4 linked regions of the Homo sapiens genome follow. The protein of the gene in region 4 interacts with the protein of the main gene of each other region in a biochemical or structural test. Each region holds a gene or a part of one and is shown on either strand. Other genes may lie near its edges. The genes, in order: RPA3, MCM6, CEP164 and ATRIP.

What was found.
Region 1: the proteins of ATRIP (region 4) and RPA3 form a complex in vitro, tested with the Homo sapiens proteins (one study listed by BioGRID).
Region 2: the proteins of ATRIP (region 4) and MCM6 form a complex in vitro, tested with the Homo sapiens proteins (one study listed by BioGRID).
Region 3: the proteins of ATRIP (region 4) and CEP164 form a complex in vitro, tested with the Homo sapiens proteins (one study listed by BioGRID).

Annotation. Positions count from the first base shown.
Region 1 is NC_000007.14:7,641,431-7,646,697, forward strand, and holds part of RPA3 (replication protein A 14 kDa subunit), read right to left. Parts: intron 1-5,267. UniProt on the Homo sapiens protein: As part of the heterotrimeric replication protein A complex (RPA/RP-A), binds and stabilizes single-stranded DNA intermediates that form during DNA replication or upon DNA stress.
Region 2 is NC_000002.12:135,838,376-135,843,301, forward strand, and holds the end of MCM6 (DNA replication licensing factor MCM6), read right to left. Parts: intron 2,577-4,926; coding exon 2,460-2,576; 3' UTR 1,251-2,459; downstream 1-1,250. UniProt on the Homo sapiens protein: Acts as a component of the MCM2-7 complex (MCM complex) which is the replicative helicase essential for 'once per cell cycle' DNA replication initiation and elongation in eukaryotic cells.
Region 3 is NC_000011.10:117,389,431-117,394,697, forward strand, and holds part of CEP164 (centrosomal protein of 164 kDa), read left to right. Parts: intron 1-1,346; coding exon 1,347-1,478; intron 1,479-1,568; coding exon 1,569-1,785; intron 1,786-2,795; coding exon 2,796-2,873; intron 2,874-3,065; coding exon 3,066-3,197; intron 3,198-3,573; coding exon 3,574-3,696; intron 3,697-4,919; coding exon 4,920-5,063; intron 5,064-5,267. UniProt on the Homo sapiens protein: Plays a role in microtubule organization and/or maintenance for the formation of primary cilia (PC), a microtubule-based structure that protrudes from the surface of epithelial cells. Plays a critical role in G2/M checkpoint and nuclear divisions.
Region 4 is NC_000003.12:48,448,966-48,454,232, reverse strand, and holds part of ATRIP (ATR-interacting protein), read right to left. Parts: intron 4,197-5,267; coding exon 4,063-4,196; intron 3,741-4,062; exon of another isoform or gene 3,658-3,740; intron 2,505-3,657; coding exon 2,334-2,504; intron 1-2,333. UniProt on the Homo sapiens protein: Required for checkpoint signaling after DNA damage. Required for ATR expression, possibly by stabilizing the protein.

The sequences.
Region 1 (5,267 bases), on a different chromosome or scaffold from region 4:
ACGAAGGGTTAGGCGGAATGATTTGCAAGGTCCCAGTTGACTCTGACTTTTGGCCATATGTTTGACTCAACAGTTTAAACCCCCTCAGCAGTCTTTCTGTCGTTGCCCTCCACACTGCGAGACTCTGGAGGGCGATCTGGAGGTCTGGAAGATAACCGATTCCTGGGAGATTTGGGGGTAGTCTCCAATCTGTCCCTGGCTCATCTTGTGACCCGAAGCCGGCGGCCTTGCCAGGAGTATTCTAGAATGAGTGCACATAAAAATACCTTCAAACGGTACGGTGGAAATTGGACAGAAGTTTTAATTGGGTATTATAACGTTGTGGAAACTGAGTCTGTGAATTGGCCCAAAGCTACAGAATTGTCATCGTTCAAATTCCCTTAAGCAAAAAAGATCCGATTTGAGACTTCACGTGGCAATTTAAGATTGGAATCTCATGTACGATAATTAAATGATAGTCTCCCTTAGTGTTTCCTTAGCACTTAATAGGTTTGTCTTAGTTTTACTCACTAACGGTACTTTAAAGGATTTCATTAAACAGATGTAGAATGTGTGTCAGTGGTGTATAAAAAAGTTGTGGTTGTATTGGTGCAAGTCAGTAAAGTCTATTTTATATTACAGCTTTAAGTCTTTTGTACTTTAGCATTGTTTTGCAAAGCAAGTTGATGTGCATTATATAGGGGAGAGTACACACATCAATGTCTTTAATAGCATTTTTTTTTGAGGCAAGATCTCTCTCTGTCACCCAGACTGGAGTGCAGTAGCATGCACATAGCTCACTGCAGCCTTTAACTCGTAGGCTTAAGCGATCCTCTCACCTCAGCCTGCCAAGTAGCTGGGACTATAAGCACATACCACCACACCCAGCTAATAAAGATTTTTTTTTTGTTGTTTGTTTTTTTTTGTTCAGATGGGGCCTCGCCATGTTGACCAGGCTTATCTCAAACTCCTGGGCTCAGGCGATCCCTCCCTCCCCCGTCTCCCTCCCAAAGTACTGGAATTACAGGTGTGAGCCTTGGTGCGTACCCTGTAATAGTGATTTTTTTTTTTTTTAAAGAGCACTCCTGTGAGTACCAGATGTTAATGTCGTTGTTTACCTGCAGTTAGAAAGACCACTTTTAAGCAAAGGCTTTCTTTTAAAACAGGGAGATGAGCAGGAAGATAATTTAAAACAGCTTTTTCGTGTATTTTTGAGTCACTTAAAATATTATAAAATACATGATGTACAGAAAAAAGTATAGCTAGCCGATTTGCATAGTTTTGAGAGAAATGAAATGAATCCATGGGGCCTGTCATTCAGCTGAAGAAATGGAACTTTACCAGTTACCAGTAAATTTTACCAGTTTGCACTTCCCCAATGAAGCCCTCCTTGCTACAGCCATAAGTAAACACTATCTTGAAATTTGTGTTAAGCTTCCTAAGCTTTTCTAGGTGGTTTTATCACACATGCAGGCGTTGCTAAATGGTATGTTGTTTAATATTGCCAGTCTTTGACCTTTATATAAACAGAAACGTATGTATCTTCTGACTTCTTTTGTTTGTTTTTGAGATTCATCTATGTTGACGAATGTACGTAGATCATATTTTTTTTTCTGTTACAGGTAGGCATGAGTGGGACAGTAGTGGGCTCTCCCCCAACCCACTAGAAATGTTGGGGGATGGTTTGGCAATTACCGAATTTGCTTCTCTAAAAATGATAATTCTGCAGCGCCAGGGAGAGGCCATTTCCTGATGGTCCACACCTGTTATCAAAATGTTAATTGAATGTAGACCCGAGGGAGAAACAGCTTCCTGGGCATGCATATTAAGAGACAAAAATGGTAAAGTATGATCTTCCAGGTACACTCCACCGGAAAAAGGAAGGAAGCCTCAGATGGGCGTGCATGTAACTCCCTAAAAACACTTCCCAAGGCTAAGGAGGGCTCTGTGCCTGCCGGCAGCCTATCCTAAGGAAAGAATCATGGGAAATAGACAAGCTTGTAAAAGTCCTAGGATCAGGGCCGGGCGCGGTGGCTCACGCCTGTAATCCCAGCACTTTGGGAGGCTGAAGCGGGTGGATCACCTCAGATCAGAAGTTCAAGACCACCCTGGTCAACATGGTGAAACCCTGTCTCTACTAAATATACAAAAAAGTATCCAGGCGCGATGGCGGGGGCCTGTAGTCCCAGCTACTCGGGAGGCTGAGGCAGGAGAATGGCGTGAACCCGAGAGGCGGAGCTTGCAGTGAGCCGAGATCGCGCCACTTCACTCCAACCTGGGCCACAGAGCGAGACTCCCTCTCAAAAAAAAAAAAAACAAACAAACGAAAAAAAAAGGATCAACGGTTAAATCGGACACTTGACCTACTCTCTTTAACCTTCACATTCCCGCTTGGGTCTCTAACAAGCACACCTTCCTTTCTTCCTGTTTTAAGGCCTTTTAAAGTAAACTTCCATTCCTGCTCTGGAACTTGCCTGGGTCTCTGTTTCTGCTTTATGCCCCTCAGTCAAATTTTTTCGTCTGAGGAGGCAAGGACTGAAGTTGCTACTGACCCGTGAGGATAGGCCACCGGTAACTTGGGGTAACTTGGATCTCTGCCACTAGTAAAAAAATGATTTCCCCAAATGGTGGTACCAGTTTACTCTCTTACCTGGAGTATAAGACAGTTTACAGTTATTGTATATTCTTGGCAACTCTTGGAGTTTTTTCCCCCAATTTGATGGATATGAAGTGTTTTTTTGTCGTGACCCTAATTTGCACTCCCTGATTACTGAAAAGTTTGAACATTTTTTCAGATTTTTATTGGTTATTTATGTTTATCTTTTTTTCCTTGATTTTTCTTTTTCTTACTGACTTTTAAGAGCTTTTTATTAGTGAGATATTGTAATGGTACAAGTGTTGTCTGTTTTTGGCCTATCTTTCCGTTTCCTTCCTTCATTCCATCCTTTTTTTTTTTTTATTAGGAAGACCTCTTTTAATATAGTTAAACATTTTCCCCCTTAAGTTTAATGTAGGAGAAAAGTCCATTAAAATCTCATTTATGAATTCTTTGATACATCGTACTCTTAAAGGTATTCTATTTTTCCTAAAATGTTTAGAGTTTTGCCTTTCATATTTAATAGTCCGTCATCTAGAATTCACTCTTCATGTATGTTGTCAGATAAGTCTCCAATCTCTGTTTTGTTTTAATTTCAGTTGTCCTAATGTGATTTGACTGTATCACCTTTTTGCCACCTTCACTTGTCACCTTAAGTTTACAGATATGTGTGGAGTCAATTCTATTCTATGGATCTATTTTTCTATCCCTGAACCACTACCTATTTTCTTTAATAGTGTAGCTTATCATAACTTTTGATGTCTGGGGCTGTGTTCTCGGGAATGTCTTGGTTATTTTTGTCTCTTTGCTCTTCTGTATAGAATGTAGCTTATGAATTTCCAGGAAAAACTGTGTTGGAATTTTGATCAAAATTGCACTGTATCCTTGGATGTATTTCAGGAAAAGTAACACCTGAATGTCAACTCTTACTATCCTTGAGCCATTTTGGTCCTCTTAAAATCTTTCCAAAAGGTCTCATACTTTTCTACATAAAAGTTTTGACTTTTAGCTTAGATTTATTCCTAGATACCTTGTTTTTGTTGCTATTATGAATGGTATCATTTTTTAAATTAAAGATTTTAACTGATTGTTTTGGTATATAGAAATGCCATTTTAAGAATTTTCTATCAGTTTTTTTTGGAATTTTCTATTCATATTTGAATAATTATAGTTTTGTTTCTTAAGAATTCTTACATATTTTATTTATCTTTCTTACCTTTTGCCTAGGATAGAGCCTTCAGTACCATTTTGAATAGAAATAGTGTTTAAGTCAAGATGGGGTTTAGCTGCATAAACAAAAGTATCTTTAATGCACAAACGCTTATTCTCACATGTGAAAGAAGTCCACAGCTGTGCAACTTAGTACTTATGTGGTAGTGCACTAAGACTCAGGGCCCCAGGTTCTTTCTGTCTTTCTGTAGTTCTACATTCAATATCTAGTTCCATATTTATGGTTATCTCATAGGCCAGGTAAGTGATGGAGCTTCAGCTATCAAGTAAATCCACGTTCTATGTGGCAGAGAAGTGGACCCGCATTCAGCTTCCTTTAAGGAGTATTCCCCGAAGTCCTTCCCAACTTGAATTTCTGTTTATTAGATTAAGGAATTTTCCTTCTATTCCTAGTTTGATAAGCATTTTAATTGAATTGTTACGGAATTTGATCAAATGCATTTTTTGCCTTAATTGAGATGATTGAAATGAGTATGTATTTTTCAGTGTTTGAACCAAGCTCACATTCTTGGAAGCTTGGTTATGATATATTGTCTTTTATATATATTCCTGGATTTGATTTGCTGTTGTTTTTGTTTAGGATTTTTTTTTTTTTAATCTATGTTCATGAGTGAGATTGGTCTGTAATTTTCCTTTTTTGTATAGTCCTTGTCAAAATTTGGCATTATGGTTATAAGACAGGAGAATTCCCTGGACCCCTTTGTGGGACTTGGAACCAGGGTGTGGCTCGTTTGCTCGGCTGCCGTGTACTCAAACCCCTTACGGGAGAGGGAGCATGCAGGTGAGCAGGTGCAGGAGTTGGGGTGAGTGATTTGGGCCTCCAGCCCCATGGCAGTGTCTAGGGGCGTTACAGTGCTCTTTTAGCCCTGCCGTCTGGGAATGGCTTAAGTGTTAAATAGCTCAGTAGAGTCAGTGTGACAGCCTTTTTGGGTTCCCACACCCAGTGCATCCTGAATTCTTGTCTAGCATCGAGGAGGAATCAGGTTACATGGGCTTGAAAGATGGTGAATGTGGGCATTTTATTGAGTGATGGAGGTGGCTCTCAGTGGGATGGTGATACGGTTTGGCTGTGCCCCACTCAAATCTCATCTTGAATTGTAGCTCCCATAATTCCCATGTGTTGTGGGAGGGACCCGATGAGAGATAACTGAATCATGGGGACAGTTTCCCCCATACTGTTCTCGTGGTAGTGAATAAGTCTCACGAGATCTGATGGCTTTATAAGGGGAAACCCCTTTCGCTGGATTTTTTTTTTTTTTTTTTTTTTTTTAATTCTCTCGTCTGACACCATGTAAGACGTACCTTTTGCTTTCCGCCATGATTGTGAGGTCTCCCCAGCCACGTGGAACTGTGAGTCCATTAAACCCCTTTTTCTTTATAAATTACCCAGTCTCAGGGGTGTCTTTATCAGCAGTATGAAAATGAACTAATACAGATGGGGAGCTGGAGAGGGGATGGAGTG
Region 2 (4,926 bases), on a different chromosome or scaffold from region 4:
TTTCTTGTAGCATGTATACAACAGTACAGCTCAGGGATCATTATTATTACGTAAATACAAATGGAAACGTGTATAACATTTAAAATATAGAACAATTTAACATATATGGAATTATGCCATATGTATTTTCAGCCTTTTCTTCACTTAATAGCTCTTAGAGTTCTGCCTGTATCAGAACATATAGACCCACCTCTAACAGATGCATAGCTTTCCACAGCAAGAATGTACCATAAATTAACATCTTGCATATTAAACACCGGTTGGTTTTACATTTTTGTGTTGCAAACAATGCTGCAAATGAATATCCTTATATACAGGCTGGGCATGGTCAATCACGCCTGTTTTGCCAGTACTTTTGGAGGCTCAGACTGTAGGACTGCTCAAGCCCAGGAGCTTGAGGCCAGTCTGGGCAACACAGGGAGATCATCTCAAAAAAAAAAATGGTTTTTGATTGATTGAAATGCAAATTGTCTTCCAAGTTAAATCCTACATAGAGTTAGATGTGTGCCTGTATCCGTCTGCCTTGCTAATGCCTATTATAAAACTTTTACATTTTTGATACTTTGACGTAAATATTATGTGCTTTTCTTTTTCTGATTATTTAAGAGGTGAAGCTCTTCTTGTTAATTGGGCATTTTTCTTCTGAGTTTTATCTTATTACTGATATAAAAATTCTTAATGGGAGTTTGGATATCACATATTAAAACGTGATAGAAAAATTTTCCCATCTTTTAATTTGGTTTATAGTGTCTGTTTTTTTTTAATAGACTCCCATGACTTTCCATAGACTGTAGAGGGTGAAGCCTGGGAATCTTTTTTTGTTGTTGTTGTTGCCGCCCAAGCTGGAGGGCAGTGGCATGATCTCAGCTCACTGCAACTTCCACCTCTTGGGTTCAAGCAATTCTCCTGCCTCAACCTCCTGAGTAGCTGGGATTACAGGTGCCCACCACCATGCCTGGCTAATTTTTGTACTTTTAGTAGAGACAGGTTTTCTCCACGTTGGCCAGGCTTGTCTCGAACTCCTGACCTCAGGTGATCTACTCACCTTGGCCTCCCAAAGTGCTGGGATTACAGGCGTGAGCCACCGTGCCTAGCCTTTTTTTTTCTTAAGTGAAAGCAAGGCTATTAGGAAAGTAAAGGAATAAAAAATGGTTACTACGTCAGCAGAGCAGCCTAGTCTTTAAAGATACATTACCTGATACCAGTCTTCTTATAAAAATCCCATGACAAATCTACTTGAGTATTCACTCTTGTTTTTAATGTTTGCCATTTATTTTTAAAATACTTAATTGTACATACTTGTGGAGTACATTTTGACAAGGTTTCATACAAGTTGATTCCAGGGAAAGAGATAATTATTGGGAGAAACATATTTAAATCATTGTTTTAACCTATATTAATCTGTCTTGCTTTCTACTAATAGATTTCTGGCTGCTCAAATTCACATTGCACTGGAAAGCTCAGACATCAAGGCAAGTTGAGTACTCATGGGTATTAGACTGTCCCACGTGGGCCTTAGCCTCAGACAGTTATTTTGCTTTTGTGACCTTTAACATACTTTGTGATTTAATGAATGCCATCTGTTGTTAAAAGCTGCAACACAGGAACTGCTCCACCTCATGAACATACTGATCATAGCTAAGTCTCAGGAACTGTTAGTATCATAAACGGTAATAACTTTTCCTGGAAGACCATAAAATTTGGGGATTGCTTGTAATATAGCAAATGACCTATTTCCCCTAAAAAAGCAATTTGAAAACAATCCTGAGAAATTACCCTTAGGACACAGAAGTAAAATAAATTACTAAAGAGTAATTTTAAAAAAGTATAATAAACTTTTATAAACTTAAAAAAAAAAAAAAACAACTGGAATTAACCTTGGAAAGTCATCTCTAAGGCCTCTAGCTTTCATATGAGTTCTCTAATGACTCCTTCTCATAGAAACCTCATCCATAATACCACAGTTCTACCTCTTCACTCCAGGTTAAGCAAAAAGGGAAAGTCTCACATTCAGAAGTAGATGGAAGTAATAATCAGGGTACAGTAGAAAGAAATCCAATAGACAACTTCAGAACAAGTTATTTTATTTTGATGAATAAAAGCAGTAGCTGGCAATTGAAAAAAAGTTATTTGCTCAATAGGACAGCACATACCTTAAAAGTAATGGGCCTTTTCTTACACATGAAAACAAAGGTATTGGTTATAGAGACTACACATTATTTGGTTCCAACTTCACTGGGACAGGAAACACACCAAAGGAAGTGCTGAAGCCTGTGTTGGTATGAAACCTGTGATGAATGTGACACATAGGACCATCAACTCAATTCTTGTTTCTGAAAACAAATCCTGGAAGCATCACTTCCAGAAACACTTCTGTCCCTAGCAGAGCTCCAGCCAGGCTCCAGGCCACGAGGTGCTGTGCCACAGTTCCTCAGCTCTGGTCAGTTACTTTCACTATCTCAATCTTCGAGCAAGTAGTTAGGGTTAACTACCAAGTAGGGATCTTCTTCATAGCTCTCACTTCCCTCTGTGGAGCCTTTCAATCCAGCCTGGGTGAGCTCAATTAGAACATGATCCTGTGAAACACAAATATTTGTCCTCAGGTTTCAAGCAGTATTATACCAATGTCCAGATATACAAGACTTGACCCTTCTTCCGAGTGTTTGCTATCAACATTTTCTTTCATTTCCCAACTAGAAACTCCTAGGAAAAGGACCACACTTTAAAAATCACTATCAGTGCTCTGCTAAACCCTGTTCCTAGTAGGATGCTGACCTTTTCATACCATAAACCCCTTGTGGAAAATTAAGAAATACTTAAATATATTACATCAAATGCTTGTAAATACAACTTCAAAAAAGGAAGTAATGCTTGAATTTTAAGGTTAAACAACTCTGCAAAATCTTCTAATTAATTGGAAGTCTGTTTCATACTTAATATCATTCAGCAATTTTTAATTATGACCACTGAACTTTTTCATATACCACCATTTCATAGAGTTAGGAGAAGAATCTATGAAAATTCATCTGAAAAATTTTTCACTCTGAGCTAATAAAAAAAAAGGTAGAACATGCCATCTGGCTTAAAATCTTGATGACAGATTTTAAGCCCACGATATAATTACAGGTTAGTCAAAACTGTCCACAAATGAGAAGAGCTCCTAGCCAAGCCCATAGAAAGGAACTCAGGAAACTGTGATTTGATCCTAAGAAGTCTGGCAAGGCTCCACAGTATAAACACTGAAGCCACTAAGGGGGACTGGACACTTTTTAAAAAATTGCCCTTTCAAATCTACCCCTGAAGTTAGATTGGACACTTTCAAGCACTCACTCTATGTGTTAACATACCTTCATAGGAAGCATCATATCTCATCAGCACAGTATAAGCTCTCTAGTTTTCTGTAGCAAATTAGTTCAGGTGGTAAGCCAAATTTTAAAAGGTAATCCAGGCTGAGCGCAGTAGCTCATGCCTGTAATCCCAGCACTTTGGGAGGCTGAGGTGGGTGGATCACCTGAGGTCAGGAGTTTGAGACCAGCCTGGCCAACATGGTGAAACACCATCTCTACTAAAAATACAAAAATTAGCTGGGAGTGGTGGCGGGCACCTGTAATCCCAGCTACTCTGGAGGCTGAGATAAGAGAATCATTTAAACCCAGAAGGCGGAAGTTGCGGCGAGCTGAGATCATGCTACTGCACTCCAGTCTGGGCAACAGAGCAAGACTCTCTCAAAAGATAAATAAATAAATAAATAAATAAATAGGTAATTCAAGTTTAGATCAGTTAGCTTCACAGTGTGTTCCAAAGTCCTGAAGCAGATTCCTTGCCTGGGTCGTTTTACTTTACACTGATCCCAAGGAGCACACAGACATGTCCCACCACTAGAAAAGCAACTCTGGACCCTGATCTGAGTAGCTGTTCTTACACCTCCCTACCCCTCAATAATCACAGACTGATCTACCTTCACAGGAAAACGGTTTTTGAGAAGACACAACCCCAATACATGACCTCTGTAATATTTATATAGTGAGCCCTGTGAATTGGCACGACAGTTAAATCTCTGCCACATAATAGGAAAATTTAACCATTCAACATATATTTGATCCTGCTATGTGCCAGGTACCACTGTAGCTCCGGGGCAAAGTCTCTACCCTCACAGAGCTTATATTCCATAAGAGAGACAAACTAACCACTTAAATAAAGAATATACTGCTGGGCCATGTTAAACATTACGAAGAAATACAAGGCAGGGTGACAGCAAGAGCAGAAGGCTACTATTTTGGCAGGCTAGCAAGAAAGGTTTCTTTGAAGAGGTAACATTTGAGCAGACATTGGAGAGGAGGAGGATATCTAGGGAAATGGACAAAGGGTGAGTGCAAAGGCCCTCATATTTGGTGTGCCTAGGGATCAAGGCCAGTGTCACTGGGGTGAAATGGGTATGGGGAAGACTGCTGTGAAATTAGGTGAATGAGGGGACAGGGGTTACACTGTATAATAGTTCTGCAGGCCATGACAAGGAGGCTGAATTTCCTTCTAATGTGAGAGAAGCACTGGAAGGGAGGGTAGTAAAATAATCTGATTTATATTTTAAAAAGACTTATCTGGCTGCTGAGCAAGAAGCCAATACAAAAAAAGGACAATTTTATGAGGCTTCTGCAACAGTCCATGCCTGGTGGCTTGGGTGGGCTGGTGAAGGCGGTAAAAAGAGAAAAGAAAATATACACACACTGAAGCTGGGGGTCAGAGGATTTGCTGCTGAAGAGGAGCTGTGAGGGGAGAGTGGAATCAAGGAGTCAAAGACAATTCCAAGGCATTTGGCCTATAGCAATTGAGTAAGAACAACTCAACTGCAAACAGGGAAGAACAACTCTGTTTTTGAACACATTAAGCACGAGATGCCTGTTAAACGCTCATCAGTAGGCAACCAGC
Region 3 (5,267 bases), on a different chromosome or scaffold from region 4:
TACTTTATGTCAGCTACTATGTGTGGTACCTGGGATATAACAGATTTTAAGACAAGATTCTTTCTCTTGAGAAGCTCCCAGACTTGCAAGGAAAACAGAGATACAGAAGATGAATTATGATGCCATGTGACGCATGGTGCAGAGTAGCATGGGATAAGAAAGGTCCACATGTAAAGTGATGGGAACAGAAAGATGAATTGATGAGCTTGTAGGGAGTTGGAAAGACTTCCCAGAGAGGGAGCTGAGTGTTGAGGAATGAATATGGGTTTGCCAGATAGAAAAGGGAATTCTTGGCAGAGAACCTAGGAAGGAAGAGTGTGGTAGAATGGAGGGATGGTGACTCAGCTGATGTGGCTAGAACAGAGTCTGTCGGAGTGAAAGAATGTGGAATCTGGTTGGGTGGCTATAGCTATCCTTGAGTGAGTGCCATGCTGAGGTGAAGCTGTTGACAGAGGGGAGCCTTTGGAAGAAGTGCTGTACTACCAAAACCCAGAAGCCAGTAGTTTGCTTTTTTTTTTTTTTTTTTTTTGGAGATAGAGTCTTGCTCTGTTGCCCAGGTTGGAGTGCTGTGGTGTGATCTCAGCTCACTGCAACCTCTGCCTCCCAGGTTCCAGCAATTCTCCTGTCTCAGCCTCCCAAGTAGCTGGGATTACAGGTGTGCGCCACCATGCCCGGCTAATTTTTGTATTTTTAGTAGAGACGGGGTTTCGCCATTATGGCCAGGCTGGTCTCGAACTCCTGACCTCAAGTGATCCACCTACCTCGGCCTCCCAAAGTGCTGGGATTACGGGTGTGAGCCACCACGCCCGGCCATTAGTTTGCTTCTTGAAGCAAAGGGGAGTTCATGGTCCCTTCGTAATCCTGGGAGGTATTAGGGAGGCAGCAGTGGACCTAGAGGCTAAGGTTAGACTCATCTTTAAGATTTAGGAAGCTTTGACTGGGCGCAGTGGCTCACACCTGTAATCTCAGTGCTTTGGGAGGCTGAGGCTGAAGGATCACTTGAGCCTAGGAGTTCAAGACCAGCCTGGGCAACATAGCGAGACTCCATCTCAACAATTAGCTGGGTTTGATGGTGCATGCCTGTGGTCCCAACTACATGGGATGCTGAGGCGAGAGGATTGCTTAAGCCCAGGAGTTTAAGGCTGCAGTAAGCCATGATCACACCACTGCATTCCAGCCTGGACAACAGAGCAAGAACCTGTCTCCAAAAAGAAAAAAAAAAAAAAAGATTTAGGAAGTTTCTTAGGCAGGCAACAGGGCTATTGGAGGCTGAGAGCCATAGCTTATGAATAGAAGAAAGACCTTTGTGGTTTCTCTGACAACCTAGCCTTTCCTTTCCATCTCAGTTCCTTGAGGGAGCGGCTGCAGAAAGCCATTGAGGAGGAGGAGGCCCGGATGAGAGAGGAGGAAAGCCAGAGGCTATCCTGGCTCCGAGCTCAGGTCCAGTCCAGCACACAAGCAGATGAGGACCAAATCAGGTAAGTGTGTGCTTACCTGTGAGCTGCCCAGCCCTGCGGAGGCGACCCCAGGGTGCACAGGCCCGTTACCATTCCACTGTGTCCACCCAGGGCTGAGCAAGAGGCTTCCCTGCAGAAACTGAGAGAAGAGTTGGAGTCTCAACAGAAGGCTGAGAGGGCCAGCTTGGAACAGAAAAATAGGCAAATGCTGGAGCAGCTCAAGGAAGAGATAGAGGCTTCGGAGAAGAGCGAGCAGGCTGCCCTGAATGCTGCAAAGGAGAAGGCTCTGCAGCAGCTGAGGGAGCAGCTGGAAGGGGAGAGGAAAGAAGTGAGCTAGTCAAGTGGGGACCTCACCCTCTGACCTGTGTCTGGGCTGCCTGGGGAGGGACTGAGTGCACAAGGAGAAGAAGGGCAAGTCTCGGGTGGGCGTGCAGGCTGGGGAGCCAGGTGGAGAGTAGGTCTCACACACACAGGCATGGGAGACAGCGAGATGACCACCTGGGCCCATTACTCCATATGGACCGAATCGGCTCATGACAGGGCAGAGGATGCAGCAGGCATCACAAGGCTCCTCCAGGGTCAGGCTGGATGGCAGTGGCGGCTGGAGGTTGTCAAGCAGAGAACCCTCAGAGGCTTGAGGGAGAGCGTCCTGTGGATTTGAGAAAGTTCGTGACTGAAAGAGATTTAGCCAGACCAGAGGTTTTGAGACAAAGGCGCTCTGTCCCTCACTGTCTCTGAGGGACAGCTGCAAGGGCCTCACTCCCCACTTTTCTCTCCTTTCTTAGGATGAGAGGCTAGCAATATAGCAAGGATTTTCTCTTTGTCCATACTCCCTCTTCTACTCCAGTCAGATGGTGGGCTTCTGAAGGTTTTAGCACAGTCTCTCTGAGCACTTGTAGTACAGTGCACTTCCCTACTCCTGCTGTAGTGTTTTCCTTGTCTAATAGCTGCAGCTTTGCACCTCACCAAAATAAAAAGAAAATTCTACATGGCCCGACTTAATGACAGCATCCAACCTGGCCCCCCTGGCTTGGATCTTATTTACCAGCATGAGCACCATCTGTGGATCTGTGGCCTAGTCTAAAGGCAGGGGGTGGGAGCAGAGAGCCGAAACTTACTGAAATGCCCCTCTCCTCTGACCTTCATGTTCCTGTTCATTTGCCAGTTGTAGACTTCAGGGGCTGAGTTATTTCAGAGGAACAAAGATGTGCTGTGCTTCCCCATGCTTCCCTTGACCCTGATCTCGAGGGCTTGGGGGTCGGTAGTCTTCCTGGCTCCGCCTCCCACCATGATCAGTACCTGGCCAGCTTCACTCACAGTCCCTTTGCTCCTCCCCAGGCTGTGGCAACGCTGGAGAAGGAGCACAGTGCTGAGCTGGAGCGGCTCTGCTCCTCATTGGAGGCCAAGCACCGGGAGGTAAGATGCAGCATCCTGGGCCCCCTTCATGGCTGATTAGCAGAATTCAGCCCCATCCCTGGCTACTAGGCAGCGAGCCTCTCTCTCCAGCCCTGGGGGATGGATGCCAGGTCCTCAGAACACATCCCCACACAGCAGCTGTACAGTCTGTCTGAGGGTCACACTCCCCTGTGTGTGCGGGGGCCTCCTCAGGTGGTCTCCAGCCTCCAGAAGAAGATACAGGAAGCTCAACAGAAAGAGGAGGCCCAGCTGCAGAAGTGCCTTGGGCAAGTGGAGCACAGAGTTCACCAGAAGTCTTATCACGTGGCTGGGTATGAGCACGAGGTGAGTGCTGCTCTGTCTTCCACAGTCGTGTGCGCCTGTTGTGGACTCTCTTACAGTCAGCTGAGCCGGCCTAGCCTCAGCGGCCTCCAGTTTGCTTTGGATGGCTCAGCTGGGGTTAGCATTTCTAGTTCCCTTTTTATGCCTTAGTTCCCTTGAAGCCAGGTACTCCTCCAATCTGATGCCCCTGTATGCATGTGGGGAGGGGGTGTTGGGGTATGGCTGTGTGCTGACCATGGTGTCATGGCTGTGTGATGTGCATGTGTTGTGTGTGTTGGGGGAGATTGGGGAAATGTGTGTAAGACCTTCAGGTGCAGCAGGCCCTGAGTGCTGGTCCGCCTCGGTTCTTCATGCCACATCCCTGCCATCTCCCCTGCAGCTCAGCAGTCTCCTGCGAGAGAAGCGCCAGGAAGTGGAAGGGGAGCATGAGAGGAGGTTGGACAAGATGAAGGAGGAGCACCAGCAAGTGATGGCTAAGGCCAGAGAGCAGTATGAAGCTGAGGTAGCTCAGCCACATCCCCTGCGCGCATGCACACACATGCACACACACATGCACGCACATGCACACACACATGCACACACACATGCACGCACATGCACACACACCCCGGGGTCCTTCCCACCTGGCTGTGGGGCAGAGGAAGGGGATAAACTGTGGTCAGGGATTGTGGGAGGTTTTCCTTCCTGGTACCCTGCCACGATGATGTTTTTTGCCTTTTTTATTAAAACATGAGAAAAACCTCCACCTAATGGGGGGCAATTCCTCTTTTATCAGGCAGGCTGTACTTTCTTCTGATAGTAAAAAGAACCCCCATACATTGAGCTTGTACTGTGTGCCAAGAACTGTTCTGAGCTCTTTATCTATTTTAACTCATTTAGTCCTCACACCAGCCTTAGGAAGGATCTACTATCATTGTCTCCATTTTAAAGATGAGGGCACTGAGACTTGGAGAGTTTAAGTAGCTTCCCAAGATCACACCCAGCCAATAAGTAGAAGAGCTAGGATTCAAGCCCAGGCCATCTGACTCCAAAGCCTTCAGTTTCCTCACTGCAATGCTGTGTCACCAGGGTTCCTCAACATCTTGGGACACCAAGAAATAGACTGGCAAGAGCCAAGTAATACTGATATTCTCCCCATTTTAAGCCTTTGGTCTTAAGGTAGGAAAGTTCAGCGACTTGAGTTTACCCAAGCTGGCCTGCCTTGCTCACATTGAGGGTGAACAATGGGTGGGTAGAGGGTGGCTGACTATAGCCCACAGCTGGGACCCTGCAGGGTGTTAAGACTACTGCTCCAGTAACTGGAACCAGTATCCCAGACTCTTTCTAGGATCTTTCCCAGGGCAGAAATAGCAGTCCCATGATGAAATTTGCCATATCCCTTCCCCCAACCAATTATGACCTTGCTGAAGAATAGTGATAATTTATCAGTGACCTCTCATTCCTTACAGAGGAAAAGTTGTATATGGTGGAGCCATAGGGAGAGCCAGAAAGGGAATCTGTCGTGGTGTCTGACCAGCCTCTGCTTCAGCTCTAGAGGGCTGCAGGCTTGCTGGGGCCAGGGCCGGTGCTGTGCTTGTAACCCTCCTCTTCTCCAAGAGCTGGCTTTAGGGAGCCGATGGTGTCCCTGATCTTACTGATGCAAGGCTGCAGGGCTAGGGGAGCTGTGATTTTTGTGGTAGAAGGGGCTGCCGCAGCTTCCCACCGGTGGGCCCACCCTCCTTGCAGGAGAGGAAGCAGCGGGCTGAGCTTCTGGGGCACCTGACCGGAGAGCTGGAGCGCCTGCAGAGGGCCCATGAACGAGAACTGGAGACTGTGAGGCAGGAGCAACACAAGCGTCTTGAGGACTTGCGGCGCCGGCACAGGGAGCAGGTGAGGGGCCTGGGGCAGGGTGAGCCCACTGTGACCCCTCCATGCACAGTAGGAAGGTGCTGGGAGCAGACGCATGGCCCCAGCAGGATGCAGCCTGACAGCTTCTGGAGTGAGAGTCTCTCACTGGCCATCTCCAAGCTGGGGCATCCTTGTTACTTTGTTTTCTGGGCCAGGGAACACACTCAGGATTAGAACTAGAGGTCA
Region 4 (5,267 bases):
AATCACAAGCCAGTAAAAGACAAACAATGAAAAATACATATGAAAGTCTGCTGTGACATAAATGTCCTAAAATATTAAACATTAGCTTTCTTTCTGAAAGACAATATGGTACTCTAAAAAGATACTGGACTCTATTGTAAGGGTAGTTTGTGAGGGTTTAAATACCAGCCCTGGCCGGGTGTGGTGGTTCAGGCCTGTAATCCTAAGCACTTTGGGAGGTTGAGGCGGGAGGATCATTTGAGCCCAGGAGTTCGAGACCAGCCTGGGCAAAATAGCAAGATCTTGCCTCTACAAAAAATTTAAAAAATAAAAAAAAGAATTAAATACCAGCCCACCATTTATTTAATGTCTTTGAATCCTAACTTATTTGTAACATAAAACACCTGTCTTCATGATAGTTGGGAGGATTAAGTAGAATGATGAGTGTAAAATACCCAGCATAGAGCTTGGTAAGGTGCCCTATGTCAGCAGTAACATATTGACCTTTATTAACGAACGCACTGGTGCACAATTCCAGGTCTTCCTCAAAGTTTGGGCAGAGTAGTTGGAATAGTTTACCAAGACACTGTGCAGTATAGAGAGACCTGCTGCTCTGGCCTGCAGTTGCTACAGCCAACAGTAACTGCCATCATTCCCCAAGCACACTCTGCGCCAGGCCCAGCACCAGACACAGTAAGTGCAAGAATGTGTGAGTCTCCCAACAACCTTTCTGGTTATGTCTTGGAACAGATAAGGGAAATGAGCCAGGGAGCTTAAGTTATTACCTTGAGGTCACTGCTTATGTGTGATGAAGCCTGGATTCAAATTCAGGTTTGTCTGACCGCAAATTCCTTGCTCTTCATCACTTATACAGAAAGTTAACTATTGCGGTTAATGATGGGCACAGGTAAGTGCTTAAAGTTTGCTAAGTTTGCTGAATGAAACAATGAGAATAAGATCCCATGTCCTTGAGATTGAAGCATGAGGAGGTGCTGAGGGAAAGTTGTAGTAGGTACTGGATACCTACTGTTTTTCCTTCCAGAATAGCATTTTCCTTTCCCTGAGAAACAGGCTGGGCATTGTGGCTCACGCCTGTAATCTCAGCACTTTGGAAGGCCAAGGTGGGAGGACTGCATGAGCCCAGGAGCTTGAGAACGGCTTGGAGAATACAGCAAAACCCTGTCTGTACCAAAATTTAAAAATTAGCTTTGCCTGGTGGTGTGTGCCTATAGTTCCAGCTACCTGGGAGGCTGAGATGGGAGGATTGCTTGAGCCTGGGAGGTCAAGGCTGCAGTGAGCTGTGATTGCACCACTGCACTCCAGCCTGGGCAAGAGAGTGAAACCCTGGACCCTGTCTCAAAAAAAAAAAAAAAAAAAAAAAAATTCAATAATTTCCCTACCTCTGACTATTTTATTAGAATGGGAGCTGTCATTTTTTTGCTTTTGGTTGCTTTTGGTTATAGCAATTGGCCAGGGACAGACAACTGACTCAAGTTAAACCAATCAGAGCCTTTCTCAGAATTTTAAAACTTGAGATGAGGGAGCCTAAGTCTTTTTTTGAAACAGGGTCTCGCTCTATTGCCCAGGCTGGAGTACAATGGCATGATCATGGCTTACTGCAGCCTCAACCTCCTGGGCTCAAGCAATTCTCCCACCTCAGCCTCCTGAGTAGCTGGGACTACAGGTGCACACCACCATGCCTGGATAATTTTGTTCATTTTTTCTTTTTCTTTTTTGTGGAGATGAGGTCTCACTAGTTGCCCAGGCTGGTCTCGAACTCCTGGCTCAAGTAATCCTCTCACCTCAGCCTCCCAAAGTGCTGGATTATAGGTGTGAGCCACTGCATGTGGCCCTAAGTCTTAATTCTGCTCTGTATTTATAAAATATGAGCCCAGGAGCTTCTGGAGAACACACCCTCTACCATAAGTATAGAGCCTGTTTATAGCATAGAGAATAAAAATGTCCTGGCAAGATTTAAGTCATTTAAGGTCCCAGCATACCCCGGTTCTTCCCAGACTTGGATATGGAAGCCAATACGTTTCCTTTTAGCCTAAGCCAGGTCAGTTGAGTTTCTGATCTAGCAAAAGAGCCTTAATGTAAACCTGTTTCTAGAAATGCTAAGCTAGTTATTTACTCCTGCCAAGACCAACTACCACAGCAAAATAGAGTTTCATCTAAATCCCTTTCCAAAATATATCCAGACCCTGGAAGAAGAGTGGATGGCAATGAGATGATAGCAGAAAGTATTTAAGACAAACAAGTGTTGAAATCTCCCTGGAAGATTTACAGGCAACCCTGGTCAAAGGAACTCAGTGGGCAGGCAAAGCTGGTGCAAAACAAATGCTCTGGGTCACCTTTTTGGAGAATTCCTTTTCCTTGTCACTGAGTGCTTGGGTTTTCTCTTGCTCAAGAAGAAAATGTGATCTTCTCTGTTCCTCTAGAACGGATTCCGTCTGATGTAGTGAGTCTCGCAAAATTTTAATTTCTCCATTCTTAATGAGAACTTCTTCTTCCATTACTTTCATCTGTAAATCCCAAATTAATCTCGTGAAAACTTTGTAAGAGAAAACTACTTAGGTACTTTGTTTTAACATGTAGTTGGGGAGATGGAGAAAGCACAGGAAAAACAGACAAATGAGTACTCAAAATATATCCACAGCAACCAGATGTCACCATGGTCTGCTAGGCCTGTTCATGGGACAGCTGATATTCATCAAGATAGCTTAAGCATACACTTGCCACTCATGCATGCAGATTCTTTTTGCCAGGGAGGGGGATGGGGTTGCTTAGGCTGGAATGCTGTGGCACAATCATAGCTCAATGTAACCTTGAACTCCTGGGCTCAAGTGATCCTCTCGCCTCAACCTCTTGAGTAGCTAGGACTACAAAGCATGTGCCACTAGCCTGGCCAATTTTCACTTTTATCTGTAGAGACAGGGTCTCATTGTATTGCCCAGGCTGGTCTTGAACTCTTGGGTTCAAGCGATTCTCTCACCTTGGCCTCCCAAAGTGCTGGGATTACAGGCATGAGCCACCTTGCCTGACCAGATTCCTTTTTTTTTTTGAGACGGAGTCTTGCTATTGTCGCCTAGGCTGGAGTGCAATGGCACGATCTCGGCTCACTGCAACCTTCACCTCCCAGGTTCCAGCAATTCTCCTGCCTCAGCCTCCCGAGTAGCTGAGATTACAGGTGCCCGCCACCATGCCTAGCTAATTTTTGTATTTTTAGTAGAGACGGGTTTTCACCATGTTGGCCAGGCTGGTCTTGAACTCCTGACCTCAGGTGATCCACTGGCCTCGGCCTACCAAAGTGCTGGGATTACAGGTGTGAGCCACCGCGCCTGGCCGGATTCTTTAGGCTCTAAGAGGCATTAACGATCTGGGTCGCTGGGTGTGGTAGCTCATGCCTGTAATCCCAACACTTTGGGAGGCTGAGGCCAGGAGTTTGAGACCAGCCTGGCCAACATGGTGAAACTCCGTCTCTACTAAAAATACAAGAATTAGCTGGGCGTCGTGGTGCACACCTGTAGTCCCAGCTACTCTGGAAGCTAAGGCATGTGAATCGCTTAAAACCAGGAGGCAGAGGTTGAAGTGAGCCAAGATTGTGTCACTGTACTCCAGCCTGGATGACAGACTCCATCTCCAAAAAAAAAAAAAAAAAAAATCTGGGTCACATACCTTGCACAACTAAAATTCCACATATTCCTGGTTTTCTTAGGGACCTACAGATGGTGATATGAAGTGTCTGCTTTCTTGCAAAGCTGCTAATGAAAATAGCAACCATTATGAAGTTGTATTATTCACATGAAGATACATGCTATAAATTCATCTTAGTACCCTAACAGTTTGTATCTCTTTTTGGATCTGGTATACAGTGTTTTTCTTCTTGCCTTTGGCATTAGGAATCTCACAATTTAGTTTCTTTCAGCCTAAACTTTCTGGTTTTCTTTCCCTAGTCTTTTCCCATGTCATAGGGATGAATCTAGACACTTGTTTTACAACTTTTGTATATTTTACTGTACAATGCTTTTAAACACGTAAGTGAATGAATTAGCTACAAAAACCACAAGTTAAGTCACTTACCTTTTCTTTAAGTTCTTTGTATTGTGCCTGAAGTACCTCTAATTCGAAATTATCTTTAATTGGAACAGTTTCTCTGTTTTTCCCTGAAGGATTTTTTGACATGCCATCTAATAATCTGTGGACCTTATGATCACCTGTAAAAAATAGTTCCATATACATTTCAGGACCCAATATTTTCCCACTTTTGCCAGAAAATGCTGAAAATACCCACTTTTTTTTTTTTTTTCTTTTTTGAGATAGGGTCTTGCTCTGTTACCCAGGTTGGAGTGCAGTGGTGTGATCACTGCTTACTGCCACCTTGACCTCCTGGGTTCAAGTGATCCTCCTGCCTTAGCCTCCTGTGTAGCTGGGACTACAGGTGTGTGCCACCATGCCTGGCTTTTTTTTTTTTTTTTTTTTTGGATTTTAGTAGAGATGGCGTTTCACCATGTTAGCCAGGCTGGTCTTGATTTCCTGTCCTCGCGATCCACCCGCCTCAGCCTCCCAAAGTGTTGGGATTACAGGCGTCAGCCACTGTGCCTGGATGCCTGGCTAATTTTAAAATTCTTTGTAGAGATTGGGTCTCCTTATGTTGCCCAGGTTGGTCTTGAACTCCTGGGCTTAAGCAATCCTCCTGCCTTTGCCTCCCAAAGTGCTGGGAAGAATTACTCTTGAGAGCAAAGCAGGGAAAGATCTAGTAAGCAATATAGATGTTTTTCAACCTAAGAACATGGTTCAAACTCATAAATGATCCTTCTTTTTTTTTTTTTTTTTTTTTGAGACAGAGTCTCGCTCTGTTGCCCAGGCTGGAGAGCAGTGGCGTGATCTCGGCTCACTGCAACCTCCACCTCCCAGGTTCAAGCGATTCTTGTGCCTCACCCTCCTAGGTAGCTGGAATTACAGGCGTGTGCTACCACGCCCGGCTAATTTTTATATTTTTAGTAGAGACGGGGTTTCACCATATTGGCCAGCCTGGTCTCAAACTCCTCGCCTCAAGTGATCAGCCCACCTTGGCCTCCCAAAGTGCTGGGATTACAGGCGTGAGCCACCACACCCGGCTGAAACTCATAAATGATCCTTCTAAAACAACAGATCCTATTATTCTTTCCCTATCCTTCATCCAATTCCAAGAGTCTCATCTAAAGCCTGAGGAGATCTCATTGGCCAGAACTCAATGATCTACTTATTATTCAGTAATAGTTACTGACCACATGCAATATGCCAGG